4 linked regions of the Homo sapiens genome follow. The protein of the gene in region 2 purifies or fractionates together with the protein of the main gene of each other region. This does not show direct contact. Each region holds a gene or a part of one and is shown on either strand. Other genes may lie near its edges.

What was found.
Region 1: the proteins of SETD5 (region 2) and MYO5A purify together in Homo sapiens (affinity purification with mass spectrometry, with the first as the bait; one large-scale study listed by BioGRID). This does not show direct contact.
Region 3: the proteins of SETD5 (region 2) and MYO6 purify together in Homo sapiens (affinity purification with mass spectrometry, with the first as the bait; one large-scale study listed by BioGRID). This does not show direct contact.
Region 4: the proteins of SETD5 (region 2) and SMC3 purify together in Homo sapiens (affinity purification with mass spectrometry, with the first as the bait; one large-scale study listed by BioGRID). This does not show direct contact.

Annotation. Positions count from the first base shown.
Region 1 is NC_000015.10:52,375,381-52,378,880, forward strand, and holds part of MYO5A (unconventional myosin-Va), read right to left. Parts: intron 1,179-3,500; coding exon 967-1,178; intron 81-966; coding exon 1-80. UniProt on the Homo sapiens protein: Processive actin-based motor that can move in large steps approximating the 36-nm pseudo-repeat of the actin filament. Can hydrolyze ATP in the presence of actin, which is essential for its function as a motor protein. Involved in melanosome transport.
Region 2 is NC_000003.12:9,434,931-9,440,113, reverse strand, and holds part of SETD5 (histone-lysine N-methyltransferase SETD5), read right to left. Parts: intron 4,387-5,183; coding exon 4,208-4,386; intron 3,265-4,207; coding exon of another isoform or gene 3,226-3,264; intron 1-3,225.
Region 3 is NC_000006.12:75,881,739-75,885,238, forward strand, and holds part of MYO6 (unconventional myosin-VI), read left to right. Parts: coding exon 1-80; intron 81-3,500. UniProt on the Homo sapiens protein: Myosins are actin-based motor molecules with ATPase activity. Unconventional myosins serve in intracellular movements. Myosin 6 is a reverse-direction motor protein that moves towards the minus-end of actin filaments.
Region 4 is NC_000010.11:110,588,195-110,591,694, reverse strand, and holds part of SMC3 (structural maintenance of chromosomes protein 3), read right to left. Parts: intron 2,091-3,500; coding exon 1,987-2,090; intron 1,804-1,986; coding exon 1,704-1,803; intron 1,284-1,703; coding exon 1,123-1,283; intron 705-1,122; coding exon 563-704; intron 1-562. UniProt on the Homo sapiens protein: Central component of cohesin, a complex required for chromosome cohesion during the cell cycle. The cohesin complex may form a large proteinaceous ring within which sister chromatids can be trapped.

The DNA.
Region 1 (3,500 bases), on a different chromosome or scaffold from region 2:
ACCTCCTGCGGACCACATACATGCGCCAGTACTTTTGAATGATGGTTGCTGCCTTGGTTCTGCGCAGAAACTTAGCATAGCTGGCCAAAGAAAATAACATTATGTTGTCAGTAATCAGAAAAAAATGCAGGAATACATATTAGAGAAACTTAAAGAGTGTCACTGTTTTAGGCATAAATAGTACCTCCATTGTATTATTCTAATAATGTGCATGCTAAGTCAACATTTATATTTACTTACATTTGTATAGCAATTTATAGTTTCCCAAAGTATTTTTGCATTTATTATCTCATTTGAGCCCTCCCTAACTCTGGAAAGTAGGATGGCCCACATTGCCAGATTTTACAAGAAAGCAAAATTCACAAAAATTCATTCTTTCTACAACAGGATCCATTTACCCCAGGCCATGCCTCTTTATAGAACAGACAGACATACACAGTAATCTCATACTTAGTTATCACCAGCTTTCTTGGATCTAGCCATTATTCATCTACCATATTTTTCCTGATTTTGTTAGGCTATAAGCTCATGATTAATTCAGTTCTACTTATACTTCTCAATTAAAATTAAACTAATAAGTAATCACACTAAAGTGTAATTCTCTTCCAGACCCTCTCAGTTAATTGCTCCCAAAAATTATACAATGAAGTCATTATTACCTAGCTCATATTCACGACTGTTTTAATTGATACATGATTTCCTCAAGCCCAATATAAAAGTATCAAAAATAAAAATTTTGAGGACATAAGTAAGCAGCAGTTTGTAAATGTTTTGAAGATAAATCTGAATCATTCATAAGGCTGAGTGAAATTTTATTCTATTTAGCTGTCCTATGAGTTAATTTGTTGTCCCTTGGAACTAAGAAAAGGTGAGGTGTTATCTTTTCAGCTATGGTGACCAGTCAAAACTGTCCTTGGTTGGACAGTGAATTAGATGGGCACTCTACTCTGTCCCCAGGAGACCTACCATCGGGCCTGGTAGCCCCGCACGTATCTCTGCATGGTGATGGCTGCCTTCCGCATGCGTAGGTACTTCTTTCTCAGCAGCCACCCTCGGATGGTCTTCTGGATCCGGATGCAGGCAGCTCTCAGTTTGTCAGCTCTCAATTTTTCTAGATAGGCCACTTGACCGGCACGGAAAAAGATCTTTGTCTTACCAAACTGGTATTTGTCCTTGTCCTATTTTTGGAAGAAATTGTATATTCAGAAATAATAATCATATAAGTGAAATTTAAAAGAAAAAATGTCTAAAAGCAGAATCAGTAAAGGAATGACTCTATTAGCTAAAACTTGGGCTACATCACAATTAACTAATGGAGCCAGATTTTTAATCCTATGCAAGTTGAGCAAATAGAAGGGATTTTAAGAAAAACTGCAGTTTAAGAGTTATTTTCCAGAATTATTCTACCTGGAATTATTATCTGAGGCCCAAAACTTGGTTGTGGGTTATAGGCAGTTATTATTTGCTTGTTTGTGTTTTAAACATCTCAAGGAAATGGAGATGCTGACTCTCTCTGACTGACCCAGGTTGTAAGGATTACAGCGGGCTGTATATTCCATGAGAAGCTGAAGGGACAAAAACACCAGTGTGAAGAATAAGGCAGGAAGAAACGTTTATGAAATAAAATTCAAAAACCAAAAACCAAAATCCTTGGGTATTCATATTGAGTTATGTTTCTAAACAGTTAGCTCTTGGCTTTATCAATAATATCTGAAAACAAACTAACAAAACCCCATAAATATGTTTAAAATCCTACAAATTGGCCGGGTGTAGTGGCTCACGTGTGTAATCCTAGCACTTCGGGAGGTCAAGGCTGGCGGATCATGAGGTCAGGAGATCGAGAACATCCTGGCCAACATGGTGAAACCCTGTCTCTATTAAAATACAAAAAATTAGCCGGGCATGGTGGCATGCACCTGTATTCCCAACTACTTGGGAGGCTGAGGCAGGGGAATTGCTTGAACCCAGGAGGTGGAGGTTGCAGTGAGCCAAGATCGCGCCACTGCACTCCAGCCTAGCAACAGAGCAAGAATCCGTCTCAAAAAAAAAAAATCCTTTCAAACTCCTTTTACAAAAACATAATAATTTATATTACATTGTGATTCACCTTATCTAGAAGTATGCAAATCATTAATCATTCTTGCATCAAAGAATGGAATTTATATGTAAGAATCATTACTGTGACCTGGAATTCTTTTTTTTTTTTTTTGAGATGAGTCTCGCTCTGTCTCCCAAGCTGGAGTACAGTGCTGTAATCTCGGCTCACTGCAGCCTCCGCCTTCTGGGTTCAAGCGACACTCCTGCCTCAGCCCCCTGAGTAGCTGGGATTACAGGTAAACACCACTACGTCCAGCTAATTTTTGTATTTTTAGTGGAGACAGGGTTTCACCATATTGGCCAGGGTGGCCTCAAACGCTGGGCCTCAAGCAGTCCGCCCGCCACGGCCTCCAAAAGTGCTGGGATTAAGGGCGTGAGCCACCATGCTTGGCCATGTGATCTGAAAGTCTAAGGGAAAACAGAGAAAATCATTTTTCCCTATGAGTAGATATCTCATATTATCTCATATATGAAACCAAAAAATCTGACACATCCACATATATCTAAAAAATCTACAATTATTTCAATTTAAATCAATAAAGTTTACATTGGAAACCTAGCTAGAAAAGTGGTCCTTACCCGCATCCCGCTTCACACCTCACACCAACCCTGCCTCCATCTTTCAGCCTCCTCTGCCTAACTAAATTCCCACAAAGCCCTGATCCAGGCCTGAAATGGCCTGGGTGAGAGGACCAGGAATAGGCCTGTTCCTACTTTCTGCTCTACATTCCCACCTGAACACAGGTTAGAAGGGGATTGGGCAGGCTGGGCGCAGTGGCTCACACCTGTAATCCCAGCACTTTGGGAGGCCGAGGCGGGCAGATCACGAGGTCAGGAGTTCAAGACCAGCCTGGCCAACATGGTAAAACCCTGTTTCTACTAAAAATACAAAAATTAGCTGGGTGTGGTGGTGTGCACCTATAATCCCAGCTACTGGGGGGGCTGAGGTAGGAGAATGGCTTGAACCCACGAGGCGGAGGTTGCAGTGAGCCGAGATGCCACTGTACTCCAGCCTGGGTGAAAGAGCAAGACTGTCTCAAAAAAAAAAAAAAAAGAAGGGAATTGGGGCAAACTCAAAAAGCCCCAGTTAAAAAAAAAAAAAAAGCATTGCTGAGGAAGTGGCCTTAGCTCTTTCAAGGAAAAAATATTATTAACAAAAAAAAGGCATCACATTTAGTTCACAGCTAGTAATTATGATCAATTAGCTCAAAGTGAGGTACTCCATCTAGGATAGTGTTAACCAAGTGAAAATATTATTTTAAAAACTTTTCATGAATCTTTAATTCTCTAAGACCAAGATCAGTAGTTCTCAAAATATAGTCCTCAGACAGCATCGGCATCACCCGGGAAATACAAATTCTTGGGCCCAACCTCAGACCTACTGAATCAGAAATTCTGATGGC
Region 2 (5,183 bases):
CATAAGAAAATCTTCATACAAATGAACAGTAGAGACCTCAAATTTATCACTGCTTAAATTTTTCATACTCACTGAATATCTGTGTTAAGTGTTAGCCCAAACTGGTTTTTTGACTATTCTCCAGGAGAATGCATGTTTTTGTATCACTTATTATTTTCATAATACATGTTCATTCTAAACCTAGATGTGATCTTAATCAATCAATCTCATTAATCCAATCCCAATCTTACTACCCATATAAAAAGTTATTATTTGAGTATATCTTTCTAACACTCTATTTTCAACAATTTAAATTACCACATTCTAAATAATCTGAAGAGGTGAAGTGAGGGGAGAGGAGTAGGTAGGGAGAATATAGAAAATGTCTAGGAGGTACTTTGCTATACTCCTCTAGGAAAACCATTGCCCTCTATGGTGACAGTATTGAGAAAAGATTACTACAACTCAGGAACAGCTTCCTAGGCAGACAGTGCCTGAGCTACAGAGACAAAGCATAAGCCCAATACATGTTCTCCTCCACGGTGTTCAAGACTTAAGTGCCATCAGAAAACAAAACAAACACTGACAGTGATGATGTCATGCTAGTGATGATTAGAAGGAAAAGACACTGTAGTACCAAAGCTACTTGAAAATCCATGTCCACATTAAACTTGCAAACAGGTACAATAAAATTAAATATACTTTCTATGAATGGCACAGAAAACACTGATGCTTATCATAACACTTTCTTTTACCACTTTTGCATCACTGTTGCTGACTGATTATTGTCTACTATCCTTTCTGCAAGGAACAGGAGTATAGAAGAAAAAAAATCAACACTATTGTCTCCACATTTCTTACTAGAGTCCAAAAGACTGAACAATAAACAAAGGGATCTAAAGAAACACCTAAAGCCAACATACTGACAATCAGAGTATCGCCTGCTTGACATCAGTAGCAGTTGCGCAAAAGAATAGTGCAAAACCTTAGGCTTAATGGAGCTTACAGACTAGGGGGACTGGCAGTGTCCAAACAATATTCCCAGCTTTAAGTGGCAATTGTTAAACTTACACTTGATAAGTGTACTGTATTCTGGAAGCCTCTGTCACAGTATTAGCCATTGTTCGCTAATCTCACTGTGTGTTTACTCTGCTGTCCCATCCTTCAAGGCATTAGAGACTCTACCTCAGTTGGGTTTAGAGTAGTGGTTCTCAATTGAGGGAAATTTTGCACCCAGGTGACATTTGGTAATATCTGAAGACATTTTTGATAATCTCAACTGAGTGTATGAGTGTTACCGGCATCTAGTGGGTAGACACCAGGGATCCTGTTCACATCTTGAAAGCACAGAACAGTCCCTTCCACAACAAAGAATTATCTGGTCCAAACTGTCAACAGTGTCAAGACTGAGAAACCCTGATTTACAATTAAGTCTTCAGTAGGGAAGCTGCTCTTGACACTGGGATTAAAAATCCAAATGATAATTTTTTCTAATTCTTATGGCTCCCACCTGGATCACTGGAGGAGTTTTAAACTAGTAATTCTGAGCATAAAATTTATAACTCAATTTAGAATTAAAAGAATCAAAATGACTAGTAATTTTTTTTTCTAAATTTTAACACACCTGTGAGGCTGTCAACCTCCCAAAACTGTAAGCAAAATATGGGGTTTATGTGCAGTTTTCTGGTAGAGCCAGTTTATAGCTTTTGAAAGGTTTCGAGCTTCTGGAGATAAGTTATGATAGTTGCTTGATAAGAGAAAAGCATTTAGTAGCCAGGATTAGGGCTATTATCTGCCTCCAAAGTCTATTTAAAAGGCCCCTCTCTAAGCAAATGAGACAAAAATAAAGGGGAAGCTAAAGCAAACTTGGCCACTTGCAAGAGACGGATCCAGCAAAGGCATGATTGATTTGTCTTCCAAGACACATCCCAGGCCTCTGATGCTCTGTAGCTCTGAGTCCTCTCCCAACTCTTTCACAGGTATGTGCAAGTCTGTTTAAAGATAGATACTAAGTGGGGCCTTCAAACTTTAGGTAAAGTGCTACCTGTAATCTTTGCTAACACCAGTCACACTGGTGCTGCACATAAAGCAATCCTAAAAAGCTTATCCTTACTGAATTTTTTTTTTTTTTTGAGATGGAGTCTTGCTCTGTTGCCCAGGCTGGAGTGCAGTGGCGTGATCTCGGCTCACTACAACCACTGCCTCCTGGGTTCAAGCGATTCTCCTGCCTCAGCCTCCCAAGCAGCTGGGACTACAGGTGCCTGCCACCACGCCTGGCTAATTTTGGTATTTTTAGTAGAGATGGGGTTTCACCATGTTGGCCAGGCTGGTCTTGAATTCCTGACCTCAGGTGATCCACTTGCCTTGGTCTTCCAAAGTGCTAGGATTACAGGCGTGAGCTACTGCGCCTGGCCTTACTAAAGATTTTAATATTTATGCCCTATAACTCTCAATAGGAAAGATCCTGCTTTTGTATCATTTAGGAATATGAATACTCATAAACTTGAATTTAATTCTATTTAAATGCTTTGAAGCCCCCAGTAATAATTTGAGAGGCATGTTTTCCTCATATATATATATTTATACACACACACACACACACACACACACACGTAAAGGAGGATACCAGACAGCATAATCAAATCTCCTTTTGGCAAGCTATTTTTAATCAACCAGCACCTTACACTTCTTTTAAACCATTCCACATACTTGCTCTATTCTCCAAGTTCTTTACAAAATCATACTTCATAAACTCTTTTATTTGATATCTTAAGAAACATGCTAGCATTACCTAAGTTTTTTCCACCAAACAGATATGCTAAGAGAAAACAGTAATTCTTATCAATAATACAAGCGTCCTGCAATTAAAGCCCACACAGTGCTAGGGTAGATGCACAAGAGATCCTGTATCATTACCAGAAAAACTCCACTCCTAAGGTTGAGTTCAATCACAGTGACAGAACACACTAGCCTCATTTTGTTTGGAAAAATGTCACTTACCCCCTAGGAAAGCAATGAATGAAAAACCAATCAATGAAGGCTGATTACAGAAAGGGAAAATATTTCAGAAAATGGCCAAGAAAATCTACTTTGGAGAAAAGCTCTATGAAAACTGAATGGCAACAACTACAAACTAATGAAAAGCAGAGTCCAAGATTCCCAGACCATCAATGTCAGGAAAGAAGCTGACCAAAATGCAAGATCACAGTGAAGTAAAACACAGCATCAGCGAAGATTACCCCTTACCTTCATCCGCAAGGACTTCCGGGATCCCTCTCGAAATGCCTATCCCAAGGAGGAAAACAAGTAGAACAAACAAAACTTGGTACCAAGAATGACAGTTATACCTATCTGAGACTAAAACTAAGGCACAAACTAGTGTTCTATTCTGTCCCCCTTTCTCTAGGTAAAAAATACAATGGAATTCCCCAAACTATTACCAAGAATAGGGGTAGCTCAAGGCCAATGAACTCTGAGACTAATTTTAATACTTTCTACTGTGAAGCTAGGTAATTAACAGGGAAGAGCATGCATCTCTTAAATCCTATATGCACCTCTGATACTAAGAGAAAAAGTAAATAAAAAAAAACTTTAAAGTTGCAGATTTACCAGTTTTGAAACTAAGAAGGAAACAAAGACCAATCCCCTTAACAAGGGATGAACAAGTCACCTAGAAGCAACAAAGTTGCTGTGATGGGGAAGAAAGAACACAAACCAGAAGAAGTTTCTCCCGTAGACATTTTAGCTGAGAATACAGGAAAGTGACCATGACACTGAGGAAACCTAGACCATACAAGAGATGTTTCCTGATTTTTATTTTTTTTGAAACAAGGAAAAACAATCAACCCAAAGACATGAGGCATGTAACCAGGACAAGAATTTCAGACTGTACTTTGGGGTTGAGAGGTGGGGAGATACTGTAAGGATAGTGGAAGCCTAGACTTGAGGCTGCAACACATACGGGATTGTGCCAGGTAGGGCTGGAATTTCATACCTGGGATGGGGACTGGAGTAGAAGAAACTTTGAGCCAGTGGTGATGATATGGTGTGGCAGAAGAGAGGTTGGTCTACATGTACATAACACAGATTAGCTGATTTTTGCAAGTAGAACAAAAGTGGCCCTTCAAACACCTGGATCAAACTTCTTAAAAGAATTTTGGTGCATTCTTGCTCCAAAATTTAAGCTATTTCAGACAATTTCTATTTAAGATATTTTTACCCTGCATACCTTGATTTTCTTCGTCTTTGGTGCTGCACGACCCTTTTCTGGACTCTTTTTCCGCTTCTTGGGTTTGGTTCTTCTAACAGTTAAGGTGATGCTTGTAGGTGTGTGCTGTGTTGCTGTATACAACACAGTGGAAGGAGAAAGCTCCTCATCCCAGCTTTCTGTTGCACTGCTATCCCCACCTGAAAAATGATGATTTCATAGTTCAGGTACTAATAGCCTCAAAAGTACATTAAAAGTAGCTTATTCTTTTAGGTGTGCCCCACATGCAGTAAGCCATTACTTCCACTATTAACTCTTATCATCTGTAAAGCAACGTTAAATACTCATCTTCCTTAAGAAAACAAGATTCTATGTCATTGGCATTAAGCATATAAACCCTGTTCCTCATGGTATTTATTTCTCCCCTTGTATTCAGTCCCTAAGCTTCGCTGACTCAATCTATAACAATTTGAGACTGGCTAATTTTTAAAACAGGAATCCATATTTTTTGTGTTCACAAGGAATACTTTGCTACAGGACTAAACTGTTCTCAACACATTTCGTTTACAATGAGAGAACTATACAGTGGTCTTGAGAGGACTTCTATCTCTTTCTGTGAAAAGAGCTGGCTGGGGGACCATGGGAACTTGTAAGAGGGGTTCTTTTTTTTTTTTTTTTTTTTTTGAGAGGGAGTTTTGCTCTTGTTGCCCAGGCTGGAGTGCACTGGCGCAATCTCAGCTCATGGCAACTTCCGCCTCCCGGGTTCAAGCGATTCTCCTGCCTCAGCCTCCCAAGTAGCTGGGATTACAGGCATGCGCCACCACACCTGGCTATTTTGGATTTTCAGTAGAGATGGGGTTTCTCCATGTTGGTCAGGCTGGTCTCAAACTCCCGACCTCAGGTGATCCGCCCGCTTTGGCCTCCCTAAGTGGTGAGATTACAGGCGTAAGCCACTGCGCCTGGCCAAGAGGGGTTCTTAAAATGAACATTCAGATCA
Region 3 (3,500 bases), on a different chromosome or scaffold from region 2:
GTTGGTTAAAAGAGTCAATCACTGGCTCACATGCAGTCGCTGGAAGAAAGTTCAGTGGTGCTCACTCTCAGTCATCAAATGTAGGTGTTTTCCTTTACACCTATAGGATCTTTCATTGTTTCAAGATGGTTTGTGGAGTGTTGTAAAGCTGTCTCAGAGGTGATGCTGAGCAACAGAGACTGAGACTTGTTCACACTGGGTCCCAGGTTCCTATTTGTAGATGTTCTTTCTTTTTTTATTTTTTGAGTGTATGATATTTATTTTCTTTATTCAAATGTGTTATAAGAGTGTCAGTTTCATAGTGTCCTAACAAAACAGAATTCACTATCTTGATCTCTCGTCCCCGCACCCCTCACCATCCCCTAATCTCTCAGACTTAAACCAGAACTTTTCTTTCTGCCTGCATGGCATCTACAATACACATACCCCGAAAATTCTAATTGTAATTGATTTTCCTTTCTTATCCCTGAAATATTGTCAGTCACCAGATCCTGTTGATTCCTTCTCCAAATACTGTACATTCCTTTCTTTTTCTTGCCAGTGCCTTAGTGAAGTCCTTTTCCACCTTTTGCATAATAATTCCATTAGCTCCCAGACTGGTTTTCCTGGTTTCTTAGAGATATCTCTCTAAACTAGAAGCCTTTTATAACTTTCCTTTCATAAAAGGTGAAGTCTAAATTATTTGATGTCTTTCAAGATCATGTAAAATGGTGTGTCAGTTTTTTGTTTCAGTCTCTTCCCCCACCATCCCCTCTTAAATCCTGTTTTTTGAACGGAAGTCTGTCATAATCCTGAAAGACACTGTCTTGAACACCATAATCCCAAATGTTGAAATCTTAAAAGATGAAAGTCCCAAAACTAGGATTCTGTAAAAATAATAAAAAAAGATATTTATTTACATTTTAAAAAGGGGATTTGAGAAACGTATAAAAACATGACAGAACTCTTCATAGGCCACTTTTCACAATAAAATAGGCAATAACATATATATAGGCAATAAACATATATGTTTATTGAAACTATAAACACATATACTAACAATAGTTGCATGGGTATAACAGGAGCAGACAAACCGTATTCATAAAGAATAGGGCGAAAGGTGAAATGCATAAACACATATTATTGTGGTTGGTAATTGTGCACCCAGCTTTGTTACTGCAGTCATCTGAAATACTGTGATGATGAACAAGCTGTCTTTTGATGAGATCAGTCAAAAACCATAGTGAGTCACCACTGCATTTGTAGTTGCCCAGAGAACTGAAATCTTGAGAAATTTTATCTTTTACAAGTGCAGATGTATGATAAAGGACATCTGTTCATTGATTAAGTTTCAGTGTTTTTATATACATACACAATGTTTACCCAGAAAGTAAATGTTGTGGTAATGCATTTTCATGGAGTTAAATTTGCAAAAAATGAATACAGTAAATTAGAACTCTCCAAAAATTTCTACATAATTAAAAAATGCTAACAATTTAAGATAGTGAAAATAAAAACAAAGAAAAAAAAAACACCCAAAACTAAAAAGGAAGTTTGACATAAAAAAAAGTGTATCACAGGGACAGATTATAGGCAGTTGCATGGAGATAGTCCATAGAGCTGGCTGTCTTTCTCAGTCATTAACTATATTTTGAAGTCTTGTACCACGAATAATAGGTGCTTTTTTTCTTTTAGGACATGGTTCTTGGAGAATATGTTCATATTCATTTTCTTCATGAGATTGCTCTTTTTGGAATTCTTCTGTGATTCCTCTGATTGGGATTTTTAGGATTTTTGATGTTAGGGATTTTAATCTAGGAATTTTGATCTTTTGGGATTTCAACATTTGGGATTATGGCTTTTGGGATTAGGAATTCAAACCCCTTTGACATACTGGGCTAAGCTGCTTTTATGTGTGGTTTGGCCAGGTCATAGCAGCTACATAGCTGGCCCAAGACAAAAGTGAGGGACAGAACATTTTGGGGTTACCTAAGGATCTGTGGCAAACCTTTAATTGTTGGGAGCTGTGTAGGAATCAGTAACTTGATTACATTTACAGTTGCCCCTTATACTCATCAGAGTACCTGAAATAGTGCTAGGTACATGAAAAGGATCCAGCGAATTTTTCCTTATCAGTAGAAAAGGAAAATTCTTTTGGCCTAATGAAAAAGAATCATGCTAACAAAGATTATTTTTGAGGTATTTTGTTAGACAATTGTGAATATAGATAAAAAGAGAACTATTAATATAAAAAGAAAAAAGATAGCAGAATCTTTTCCCCATCATTTTCCAAATAAAATACAGAAACATCTTTATTACTGTAGTTTAATACGTTCAGCTTTACACATTGCATTATGATAGGAAACACATTATAGTAAACTCATCTGTTACACCATTCATTTGTGGACTGTGTTCTACAGTGGTACCGAAGTCAGTAACCGGGCAGGGATCTTTGCAGAATGTTAATAGGAAACTCTGAAAAAAAAGTTCAAGGTCAGATCATCCTAGGAAATTGTGAGTAACTGAAGTTAAGTAGATTTCTTTGCTGTAGGATTCTCAGAGGCTTCACTCAGTATGTTCATTGTGAACCTCCATACAGAAGTATAGTGTACAGCTTTTCATAAACTCATTTGACAGGTAAATCCTTTTTTCAGGACATACCTATTCACATTTCATAGAACAAATGTTGCCTAAGACAGTTTGGGAGGTAGCAGTGTAGCATACTAAGGAAATAATGCATTTAAAATGTAAGCCTAACCAGATACATGATATTGTAACTGCCCAGTGGGTTCTCCTTGCCCACTACCCAGACAGAGCTGATTTATCAAGATAGGAATTGCAGTAGAGAGACAGTAATTAATGTAGAGTCGGCTGTACGGGACACTGGAGTTTTATGATTACTCAAATCAGTCTCTCTGAAAACTCGGAGATCTGAATTTTTAAGGATAATTTGGTAGGTAGGGGCTTGGGTTGGAGATGAAATCATAGGGGGTCAAAATTGAGTTTTTCTTGCTTGCTTCTGTTCCTGTGTGGGAGCACAGAACTGGCTGGGCCGGATTACCTATCTAGGTGGCATCAGCTGGTGCATTGGAAGGTCTGCAAAATATCTGGAGCACTGATTTTAGGTGTTACAACTGTGATGTTATACCTGGGAGCAATTTGAGGAGGTTCAGATTCATGCAGCTGGAGGCTGTGTGGCTCCTAAACCGTAATTTCTAATCTTGGAGCTAATTTGTTAGTCCTACAAAGGCTGACTGGTTCCCCAGGCAAGAAGGGGGTTTATTTTGGGAAAGGGTTATTATCATGTTTGTTTCAAAGTTAAACTTTAATAAACTAAGTTCTTTCCCAAGATTAGTTCGGCCTACACCCAGGAATGAACAAGGACAGCTTAGAGGTTAGAAGCAAGATGGAGTTGGTTAGGTCAGATCTCTTTTACATAATTTCCTTGGTTGTAATTTTTGCAAAGGCAAAATTACATCTTTCAACATCTTTTTATTTTTAAGAAGAATAAGAAATTATAG
Region 4 (3,500 bases), on a different chromosome or scaffold from region 2:
GCAATTACACTGTTCTAAGAATGGTGTCTGAAGAATATTTTTAATCCACCTAAAGTGCACTTTTGTTACCAACAAAAGCAATGTTATGCTTCCGAAGTCTATCACCTTACTAGCCATTTTTTTCATTTAATCCTAAGTACGTCAAGACACTTTTAAACTATACATGACAGTTCCTTGGGAATCTTTCTCCAACTCCCTAACCTTAATTATGTCACTCCCAGATATGCTCTCAAAGTATCCTGTACTTACGCTTTTAACACTGCACATTTGCAATGATTTGTTTCATATCTTAGCTTTTTTCTCTTCTTTTTAAATGATCCTCCCACTTCAGCCTCCCAAGTAGCTGGGATTACAGGCGTGCATCACCACACCAATCATAGCTGTGACTTCTGTCTCCCTCCCCAAAACCCACTCAGCACTAAGGTCCATGGGAAGACAGATATTTTTATCTCATACACCACTGAATCCCAGTGTATAGTGCCTGGGCACTAGCATGTGTTAGATTATGTGATAAAAAATAACATTATAAAAGAGAAATACACCTTATCACACAATGACTCACATTGGTTTCAGGATAGGCTGTATCCCTGACATCTAACTTGTTAAGAGGCAGAAAAGTAACCTCTCCAGGAAGATTCATTTTATTAAACTCCATTAAAATCTTCGTGCTGACTTCATCTGAATCAACAATGTGATAAAATAACCTAAATATAAACAGAGTAAGACAAATCTTTATTGGTACTCAGGGTCTCCCTATGTTGCCCAAACTTATCAATCCTCCCACCTCAGCCTCCTGCATAGCTGGGACTAAAGGTGTGCACTTTTAAAATGTTATAAACACTTAAGCATCAAACAGTTTTTTCCTATATAATCCAAATAATTTTGGAAAATAAGACTACTTTAAAAATTCCAATGGCGGGGAGGGAGAAACTCCCAAAAGAGGAAAGTTCTAGCTTCTATAATTAGGAACAAATACTTAGCATCTACTTCTTTAATTAGAAAGTTAAGGAACCGAGATATAAAAAGATAATGGAAGATATGTTGTACAAAAACTACAAAAGTTGTTTAAGCTATTCTTATTCCCTCTTCTAAAAATGCTAAATATCAAGCAAAAGCTTTAACCTGTTTCCAGCAGTGACTTCCACGCATGTGTAGAAAGCTGGTTCACATTCAAAGTTATTCATTACAATACCATGATAGCCATTTTGAACATGCTGGTTTATTCCTTTTCGACGGAAGTGGTCTAGCACTTTGTTTATGCTGTCTATTCCATTTAAAATGGCCTGTAAGTTGTCAGAAATGAAAAATATTAAAATAATATCATCAATGGCACTCCTGGTAAGGAATGAGCCCACAACACCATACATTTTAAAAATATACCAGTGATTAAACTAAACATCCTCTCCAACAAACACATCACCTCCTCACAATATGCCAACTACATGTAACACCTTATATGATAGGCTCTGTTCCATAACAGTAGTGTTAAAAATGGGCTCTTTATCTGAACATCAAAAGTGCTATTAATAGTATGTGTAGTAATAAAACTATTTAATCTCTATCATTTCATATTTAGAAGATAATTTGGACTCCTATTTATCACTTGGAACCCATGACCTACACCTTGAAAGGTAAAAAATTATTACATAACGATTAACTCAATGACTCAGTGTAAACAGAGGTGATGAAAAGAACCTGCCCACCTTTCCTGTTGCTGCTCTAAGAAGTTGTTGCTTCTTTTCAAGATCTTCTCTTTTAGCAGCAAGTGCTTGCTGTTCTGCATTCTCTTCTCTCCACAAGTAGCTAATAAATAAAAAGTAGACTGTCTTTAATTTTAAACACATATGAGGATGCATTAACAGTATACAGTTTAGAATCAAAATACAGAAAACAAGCCTGACCGGTTAACTTGTAACTTAAAGACCACATAACAGCTAGTAACGAACATTACTGAAAACATTAATGCACATTTTAGTCTATACTAACTTTCTTTCACTTTGTAGTTCATCTTTCTTATTTTTTACTTCGTAATATTTTCTGTCCAGTTCTTCTACTCGAGCTTTGACTTCATTAAGATCCTGGTCCAGTTTCTATGGAAATAAAAATAAATTTAAAATTCAATTTCATGAAACTAATCTACACTGATAGAAAGCAGATCAGTGGTTGCAGATGGATGGGGGAGGCGGACAAAAGGTGAGGGAGGAATTACAAAGGGGTATGGAAAACGCTTTTGGGTAATAAACGTGTTTATTGTCTTAACTGTGGTGTGTGGTGTCTTAACTGTGTGGTGTTTTACAGATGTATACGTATGTCAAAACTCATCAAATTATATACTTTATTTTTGCCACTTTCCTGACTAGGAAAAATGATGTACACTAAATATGTACAATTTACTGTATGTGAATTATACCTCAATGATGCTGTTGAAAAATCCAATTTCAGTTTGTTTTTTTTGTTTTTTGTATTTTTAGTAGAGACGGAGTTTCACCGTGTTAGCCAGGATGGTCTCGATCTCCTGACCTCATGATCCGCCCGTCTCGGCCTCCCAAAGTGCTGAGATTACAGGCGTGAGACACTGCGCCCGGCCCCATTTCAGTTTTTAAAAGTTGTCTTTAGGCAAAAGAGCATACCACACCAGAAAACACAAACCATTAAATACTATAAAACATGTTGCTAAAAGTTAATTTGTTCATTAGTGATCTAAATCTTCCTATTTCTATAATATACACTCCAGAATTTTAGAAAAAAAATTCTAAGTTCTCATAATAGTCCATTATATACTTTCATACTGCCCCCTCTACACACACACACAACAGAACACAAAAACTATTTTCAACTATTTTACATTCAAGAAAAATGAGTTAAAAATCTTGGCAGAACCTATAACAAATCTCTAAGAACCTAACGTAAGATGCTGTTTCCTTAAGGAGAATTAATGAACTGTATTCATTAATTTAGTAGACTATACTGAGCTGAAAAAATCCAATAGCCTCACTGGCTAGAGTTTAAGGAAGCTGACACTTCATCCACTTAGTGAAGTTACCAAAACCCCAGTATGTACCAGGCATTCTTAGAAGAGCTGGGGAATCATAAAAGACCAAAGCAAACAAAAATCCTTGCCTTACTGGGAAGCAATAAGACAAGCAAAATAAAGCTGAAGATCATCCTTCAGGGGAAGGGCTTCAAACTGCTTCATAAAGTAATTACATTCATCTGTTTGTATTATAACTAATTATTGTCAGATATCAAAGTAATTGTAAATATTCCCACAGAGTACTGACAATTATTCATCCTCAGTAGTAACACTGACTTTTTGTCCAAAATTTTAATGGACAAAAGTCAATGTTACTACTAATTCCACTGACAAAAAGTCAATGTTACTACTGAGTCACAAAATCTTAGATTGGCCGGGCGCGGTGGCTCACACCTGTAATCCCAGCACTTTGGGAGGCCGAGGTGGGCAGCTCATGAAGTCAAGAGATGGAGACCATCCTGGGCAA